2 linked regions of the Homo sapiens genome follow. The protein of the gene in region 1 interacts with the protein of each later gene in a pairwise test. Each region holds a gene or a part of one and is shown on either strand. Other genes may lie near its edges. The genes, in order: CD164 and NBPF19.

Region 1 (4,506 bases):
ACAGTTTTGCATCCCCAAAGTTTCTTACCTTTACATTCTATCCAAAAGCAGGTAGTATTAACAACGCTAACATTAAAACAGGAAACGCAGCTGTTTCGACCTTCACAGGTTTCTGGGGAGTTGGGGGGAGAGATGCATGAAATCAATGATTTTATTAGTATCTTATTTGAATCTGTATTACTTATCTTTTTGAACAATAAGCATTACATACAGCATCAAAATTACTAATTCAGATAAATGATAAAACTTTATACTGGTTTACTAAGAAATTCCAATCATTACAAAGCTGTAAGTAAACGCATTAGAAAAACAAGCTAGTGGTCACTCTCAGTACAGTGCCTGATGGTATCTGTCTAACCAATCCTTTTTCACAGGACAACTATTGGAAGACACCCACAGCCACTAAGGATTTAGGCATTTCAAAGCATCCTTAATACATAAAAATATCGAGAAAAAGGCTTTGATATAATACCAACACTACACATAGGAAAACCACTACCCCCAAACATCAGATAAAACCCTGAGATTTTTAGTAGTAACAGTAGTAGTTTAACAGGTTGAACCCAAGCACTGATGATGCCCATTCTGCTGCAAACAAAGATAATTTCCCAGGGATTCTCGATTCATAAATGATCCACTCTCGACAGGATCCTCCACAACTGGAGACAACATCTAAAAGCCCATATTCAAGTGCATACAATTCAGGTTAACAAGGTATTTGTCAATAGTTCATCCTAGGCCAAACAATCCAGAAACAAGTACTCATCACCATAATTCAATTTCTGGAGAAGAACGGACTATAAAATTGGGCTCTATTTTCCAGTGAGAAAAAGCAGCAAAATAAAAGAAAAAAAAGAATTGGGCTCCATTCATTTTCCTAGAAACTAGATGCCTCCAAACATTCTCGTTTGCTTTGCTCCTGCCTAAAAAATAGTTCTGCAGAGGCACTGCTTTCAATACTTCATCATTAGTACTTATTAAAGACTGGGACATGTACGGTGGGGTGGGGAAGGGTTCATAAAGTAAAAATAAATTTTCTGAAGTTTGTATAGATAAAACATGCTGTTTAAAAACCTTTGTGCTTGACGGGTGTAGCAAAGTGAAATGTCTGAAATGTTCTTTACAATGAACTAAACTTGCTACCTTTCAGACCACACTACATCCACTTATGATTTCCAGAAAATACATACCTCCTTTGCACGCACTTCAATTACACAAAGACAAATTAATTTGATACTTCCAACCTTCTCTTACACACACACTACAATTCTGAAAGGAAACTGTCAAATTAAGACTGAGACAAACATATTCTGCTCTATCATCTTAAAATAGTGCGGTTAGAATTCCCAGTATTATACTGCAATTTACTTCCCTCGTTTTGAAATGTTACCATTACATCTTCCTTAAACTAAAAACAAAACATTAAGTTTACTATATACTTTATTAAACTTTTATAAAATACTAAAACTAGAGGAGAATTTGTAGAATATGAATGCCGTGATAAAAATCATTACACTTCGGCATTCTTCGGTCAAGAAGCCAATGTTAACTACGTAAACATTACTCCTTAACTAATGTTAACTAGAATAACCAATCATACGAGACTGCAGGTTTTAAACCTCTAGTGTTTCTCCCGCTTATTACCTCAAACTTATCTTCCTTCTCTCTTTTGTGTTGTCACGGTATATGGCAATTTCTGCTTTAAAATGTATGTATGCCTTAACCAGCCCTATGCGACTGCACATAACAAAAGACACGCTCCTGATCGGGTTTTAGAAAACCCACAGACCTGGGCACAAACCCCCGTTCCACGACCTACTAAACATACGCTATCTGAGCACAGGACATAGTTAAGAAAATTTTAAAAACAATTGAAAAAAGAATAAACATACAATGTCAGGAGAGTTTACTCATCTCCGTCTCTGCATCTACCTCCTAGGTTTCACTACCTACCTTCCAGTTTAGCCTTAGGATACGTACGCAAAACACCCGGTACATACATGGGTACTTTTCTTCCTTTTCGCATACTTTGAAGTGTGAAGTTTTCACTAACTACGTGCTCAAACGTCAGCTACATTCTATTCCTATCTGCAAAACCAATGTAATTAAATCTCAAGCGACCTTCTCAGACTCAAGTCTGAGACACGAACGAGCATTACCGTCTTTAAGTTTCTCTTTCCCGGACTTCCGGAGAAGGCTACCTCCGGAGAGAGGCGCCGGGAGGGTGAACAACCAGTGGCAGGGAGAGGCAGCTCGGCCCCACCGCCAACCTCAGAGGCGCGACGCCCGGCCCCATCCTCAACCCCACCGCTGCCCCCGCGGAAGGAAGCCACGTCCCCATTTCCGACCCCAAGTGAGGCTAGGAATTACGATGCACTTTTAAAAGGCACCTCGACTTGCAACACTTCGAGGGGGGCCCCAGCCCCGCAGCCACTGGGAACCGCGCGTCCGCTTCCCCCCAGCGCGCTCCCCACCCGGCCCGGCCACGAGTGGACTCCAGGCTGGCCGCCATGTTGCCGGAGTCGCCGCCGCACCCCGAGCGCGGCCCGCCCGCCCGACCGTGGCCCGAACCCGGGCCCCGCCCGCACGGCGAGGAGGCAGTGCGGCTCGGCTGGGCAGGGGAGGGCGGGAAGCCCACAGGGCCCGCGCCCACCTGGTGCCGGAGTGGTGACCAGCGGGAGGGACGTCACCGGCGCCGAGGTTACGTTGGAGATGGGCGCTAAAGTCGTCACGTTCGGGTGCTGGGTCGTGTTCTTGTCCGCGGACAGCACGCAGAGCACGCCCAGGCAGGTGGCGGCCCAAAGCAGTGAGCGGGAGAGCCGCGACATCGTGTCCTCAGCGCTGGCGTTCGGGAGAAAGCTAAGGCTCGCAACGCTCAGTCAACCCCTCAATCCCCTGCGGCGCCGCCTCCGAGACTACGCTCCCCCGCGGGAGCGCGCAGGGGTCACGTGAGAGGCCCCTGTTTTCGGCGTGCGGGGGCGAAGAGGAGGGAGGTGGGGCTCGGACGATACCAACGGGAATCCTACGGGGGGAAGCAGGGGAGTCGGGAGGAAGCCGAAGGAACCTGGCCCTCAAAGCGACTGTGCCACAGCCAAGAAAACTGGGAGCTTCTGCAAATCGTTCTTCTTGCCCTCAGATTACCAGACACGACGCAGCTGGACTTGTCTCATGCCTGCGATAGGGACGGCCCCCACCCTGACTTGCATGGAACAGTCGACATAATGTGGCCTACTGCTTCCACCTGAGCGCCCCGCCAGGCTGTAATTCCGCGGGCCCACGTGACCTCCGGGGCCGCGCCTTCCGGACGCAACTCCACTGGGGCGGAAGTTGGTTTTGTGCGGCTCTCAAGAACTAAGTTTGTGCTGTGCTGCGGGATCCCCAGGGAGCTTCCTTATATCTTCGGCAGGACCCCTTCTTTTTTTCTTGAAGATTGATTTTGCTAGAAGTTATCCTGTGATGGGACTCCCTAGGGGAATGGAGGCACCACGTGGTTAAGGAGTTTGTGCGTTGCCGCCCACATAGTGTGGGCAGCTGAGGCGCCGCCCGGATCAGAGCCGCAGGGCGTCTACTCTGTCACTTTCCCAACCTGACTTTTCCGGATTGCTATTTCAGACGGCGGTTGCAGCAGCCGACCTGTCTCAACTCCACCACTGTAGTCAGAGAATCAAAAGCGGTCTGAGTTGCGAGGTCATTGGGGAGGCCCCCACCCCCACATTACCAGTGAGGAAACTGAGACTTAAAAAAGTGACCTGACCTGGACACGGGATTGCCTGACATCAGAGCTGGATTCTTAAGTTCCTGTTAGTGTTAAGGCGCTGCTCAGACTTTTAGTAAAGGTGAGCGCCATCTACTGCCAAGTCTCACAAAATATTCGCAAAATTTGATACGGTTATCACATGGTAAAAATTAGACTTTAAAAGTTGTATTTAATGCTGTGTTTTCAGCTGTTGTACACTTATGTAATTTTAATTATGCAAAGTTATCCTAATAATATAGGAATATTAATTGCTTTCGTGAGGTCTGTCTTGATGTGCCACGATGACTTTTTTGATGTGCCAAAAAAGATGACTACATAGTGCTTTTACCTTTTTGCTCAAATAGAAAGATTTTATTTCCCCTTGGGATCTTTTCAGTGTCGTCCTTCTGTACCCTCAGGACTATGAACATTTGTTCCAATGACTACGCTAGTTGGAGTAGTGTTGCTTGGATGTAAACAAAAAGCTGATAGTTTTGACTGATCCAGCCCAGAAGCATGAGAATGCTGTCAGGGAAGTGAGCTCCCACCATAAGCCCTTCAGAGAAGTGTCTGCTCTTCTCTCAGGAGGCCTCTCTCTATATTTAACACTTGACTATCTGGCACCCAGACCAAATGAAAGCGCAAGGCAACTTTAATTTTTTTTTAAGGTTAAGAATGTAAATAGGGGCCGGACGCGGTGGCTCACGCCTGTAATGCCAGCACTTTGGGAGGCCAAGGCGGGTGGATCACCTGAGGTCCGGAGTTTGAGA
Region 2 (4,437 bases), on another chromosome or scaffold:
CTTAGTGAGAATCATTGGTATTCCATAGAAGAGTGAATTAAACACAGCCAAGGGAAGACCCACGTCTCATACTTCTCTTGTATATTCCAAAGTTCCAGGGAAATTCCAGGTGATAGAGGTTATTTCCCATACTGTTAAAGCAAGGTTTCAGACACTTCTGAATTTTGGTCCCAGTACTCTAGAAGGGCACACCTCTGTCCTGGAAAATAATACAGGAATGAATACTCTTCCCGTGACCCATTCTGGTCATTCTTCCAGCATCACAAAAACCAAAAAATGGAAATATGGCCAAATACGTGATTAGCTGTCCCTCATCTTCAGGTTTCTTATCTGTTACTTATAGATAATAGCATTACCTTAAGGATTATGATGAAGATACAATGTCCAAATATAAACACAGTTTTGAGCAAAATGCCTTGTACGAATTGGTCAATGAATAATTACTAAATATGTGAATATTTACTGGATTGTATGGATCCTATGAATAATTACTGAATAATTATTGTGATTGCTTTTATTGGCAGTGCTGAAAACTCATCCCTTTGTGACCTCAAGTAACCCATGACACTTTGTGAACCTGCAGTTTTTTCATTTAGAAACTTGACAGATTTTCATTCTGACACAGAATGTCAGGTCTCCCAGACCCTAGAAAATACATTGACTTAAAGCCTTTGATACATCTCAAAGCAGTATCCTTACAGTGTCACTGGAAGATGGTGCGGGCTGCAGAGAGGGATGCTTTCAAATGGGATTAACCAGTCCTCCTTCCTTCACTTCCACATGAATGCTGGGCAGCCCAGGGTCAACCCACTGCACCCTCAACTCAGGCAAGTCCAGCAGCCAATCTTAGGAGACCTGGGCTACAGAACAGTCTCTCAAGTTCCAGGCTCACAAAACCTAGGTGGGGATGAAAGCTGAGAAAGCGAAGAGGTGGTTCAGGGGATCACTCTTTCCTACTTGTTCCTCTCACCTCAAACTCACCTTCTACTGCACAGCAACACTGAGGATCGCCAACCAACCCTGACCATAACCTTGATCTTGCCATGTTCTGTTAGTGGAATGCAACCCAAAATCAATGGTGTTAGGTCATCTCAACAAAATATATATCAAACCATATTCCATAAGAACTGCTCGTGGCCCTGTTCTTTTCAGTATATGGGAAAACAAAATGGAAACAACAAAATAGCATCAGGTTTACAAAACTTCCCAAGATAGATGGTCACACATGTTTTCAGGAGACCTCTATATAAATGACTTTGATCACTTGATACCTTGAAAAGAGGTCTTGTGGCACTAGAATGACATCTATAAGTGACAAGTATAAAATGTAGTGCTCAGTGACATTAAAAAACAAATCAACCCACATAGAGGAAGAGCTTTGGACGTAGGGATGTCAAACTGGTCTAGAATGTAATGAAAACCCAAGAAGGTGCCCCAGTAAGAAAGAGGAAATCAATCTAACAATGGGATGCAGCAGCAAGAATACTGAGACAGGAAAGAAAATATTTTAAAAAAATGAATTATTCATTCACTTTCTAGTGGATACAGAAAAAACTGCAGAAGACCCAGAGGATATCAGGGCAGGCTAAAAGTTTGATATCTTACACCTGTGGAAAAGCCTTAAGCTCTGTTTTAACTGAGAGCAGGTGGGGTGACTTCATGACTACCATTAAGAAAATATAACCTGTTGGGAAACTGTTTCTGCCTTGATGATGTTGTACAGACAAGAGATAAACAGTGAGGAATATGCTTAGATGTATTGGGAAAGACATGGGTCTGTGGCATTGTCACAAGGGTACACGAATACTGAGAGTGAATGCTGAAGGAATGATCCCCATTGGTGGTGACCCTCAGGTGAAAGTAGGGTGCCTGTGTTTCAGCAAAGCCTGGGCAATTGGAATGCAGAGCTCCTAAGATTCCATGACACCCCCACCTTCTAATTCTGTTATTGCAACTGCAGACGGTTACCTGGCACGCTGGCCACATTCTGCCTCACTCTTATCAGAGTCTGAGCTACTGGCAGTGCTTTCAGCTCTGAGTTGAGGCACCTCGAACCTTGTTTTTGTGGTGAAGGATCCTAAAGTGCTGTGGGGAGTGATCACATTTTTCACAACAGTAAGTTAAGAATTTCAGTTACTGACATCCCTCAGTCCTGATTAAACCGATTTGATTTCACCAGTTTTTAACCCATCATATGTTTGGGTTTCTTCTCCCCAGTCCCTGACTCCACCTCTTCTGCCACAAACGTCAGCATGGTGGTATCAGCCGGCCCTTGGTCCAGTGAGAAGGCAGAGATGAACATTCTAGAAATCAACGAGACATTGCGCCCCCAGCTGGCAGAGAAGAAACAGCAGTTCAGAAACCTCAAAGAGAAATGTTTTCTAACTCAACTGGCCGGCTTCCTGGCCAACCGACAGAAGAAATACAGTAAGATCTATAGGCTCACCATCATGAAAGTGATGAATGATATCCTGTCTTCTCTCTGAGACACTAAATGCTCTCTCCATCAAAAATAATTTCATCCTTCCTGTACTTCTAGGAAAACAGAAATGGGTATTTTAACATTTTGTTAAAGTTGGAAGACAGAGGTGCCAAAGTATTTAGCAACTTTCCATGTTTGCAATCAGATGGGGGTGGAACTAGAGTTAAACTCACAGTTATTGATTTCTAACACAGGCACAGAATGACCTGTTTTCTCCAAGGGGCTCAATCATGTTTTTAAGAATCCTCTCTGTACCATATAAGATCCTGCAGACAAATAACATCTAGTCTGTTGTTCTAAATGTCTAGGACTAGTGAACTTTTATTCAGTTCAAGTTTCTGTTGAGGCCCAACAGGCAAAGCTCTGTTCTAGTGACTCTGAGGGGAACTTGGTGATAGTAGCCAGTACCTGCTCTGAGGGGCTTCAAGGGGAGTCTGCTCCTAATAGAACCTGTGCTATCTATAAGTGACAGCATCAAGAGCAGGGAGTAGGGGCCGTGCAACGTGGCTCACTCCTATAATCTCAGCACTTTGGGAGGCTGAGGCGGGCAGAGCACGAGGTCAGCAGTTTGAGACTAGCCTGGGCAACATGGAGAAACCCCATCTCCACTAAAAATACAAAAAGTAGATGGGCATCGTGGCGGGCAACTGTAATCACCACTAATCGGGAGGCTGAGGCAGAAGAATCCTTTGAACCCAGCAGGCAGATGTTGCAGTGAGCCAAGATTGCACTATTGCACTCCAGCATGGGTGACGGGGCAAGACTCGTCAAAAAACAAACAAACAAAAAGATAAATAAATCAAAAATAAAAATAAAAAGCAGAGAGTACCTTGGTGAGAGTGAAGTCCTGCTTCCTGGTGCACAGGCTCTTGTTCCTAAAGAGGAAAGATCACACCGGAGAATGTGTGGAAGCAGCAGTGCAGTGTGCAAAGCAGGGACCCTCAGCCTGTCTCCTGGGCTCCATCCAAGTTGCTTGTCTTGTCTGTCCCTCAGTTTCCTCATCTGTTCAGAGGGTACTACAATAATACCTACCTCTGTAAATTGCTGCAATGAATTACATGAGGTATTTCCTGTCAATCTCCTTGAACATTAATTGGCACAGTGGAAACACTATCTATTAGTTCTTCATTCTGATGTTTCTAAATTAACACAAACTAATGCTGTTTCTAAATTAACACAACTAATCTAAATCTTAATGCTGCCTCTCATACTAATAAAGTATTTGGGCATATTTCCTTCATGGCCTTATTGTCTTATATCTCACACTTTATGCTTCAGATATGATTCTTAAAACCATATCTGAATATTGATTTAAAAATGAAATATTTTTAAAGTCCTTGACATATTTGTCCTTGAAATACCCAGTAAAAGGGAAACCATCAGTCCCATAGTCCTAGGGGCCTTCCCGACTGTACAAGAAATCACTACTTCATGCCCCAGTGCAGTGTTTTAGAGGAGAGGCTGCAAGACTTGGGAAAGTGGCCCCGCATTCAGAGTCAGACCTCAGGGGCTGTGAGTTCTGACTCCACTTCGTTGTGGTTGAATCATCTTGTCAACTTCCTTGATGCGCCCTTGAGTTTCTCTTTCTTCGTCTTTAAATTTTGGAGGATCAGATGCCAGAAAGTCAGGAGACTGAAGAATAAAGATGTGGAAATCCCTGTCTAGACCCTGGTACTGGGGAGAGTTTTGTCCTTGGGATGGACCTGGCTCCTGCCCTGTAGGCAGTGACCACAGCAGCATGTCCAGCCTTCCACTGAGGCAGGCGTGTCTGTCTTTTCTCAGAGTATGAAGAGTGTAAAGACCTCATAAAATTTATGCTGAGGAATGAGCGACAGTTCAAGGAGGAGAAGCTTGCAGAGCAGCTGAAGCAAGCTGAGGAGCTCAGGTGAGGGGACCCCGTGGGGGGAGGGCAGGCGGGTAGGTGTGTAGATCTCTGAAGTACAGCAGCTCGGCGG

The links.
Region 2: the proteins of CD164 (region 1) and NBPF19 interact in a two-hybrid assay, tested with the Homo sapiens proteins (one large-scale study listed by BioGRID).

Annotation. Positions count from the first base shown.
Region 1 is NC_000006.12:109,379,551-109,384,056, forward strand, and holds the start of CD164 (sialomucin core protein 24 isoform 1 precursor), read right to left. Parts: upstream 2,918-4,506; 5' UTR 2,829-2,917; coding exon 2,654-2,828; intron 2,190-2,653; exon of another isoform or gene 2,027-2,189; coding exon of another isoform or gene 1,954-2,026; intron 113-1,953; coding exon 29-112; intron 1-28.
Region 2 is NC_000001.11:149,473,681-149,478,117, forward strand, and holds the start of NBPF19 (NBPF family member NBPF19), read left to right. Parts: upstream 1-1,364; 5' UTR 1,365-2,115; intron 2,116-2,217; 5' UTR 2,218-2,252; coding exon 2,253-2,427; intron 2,428-4,264; coding exon 4,265-4,367; intron 4,368-4,437.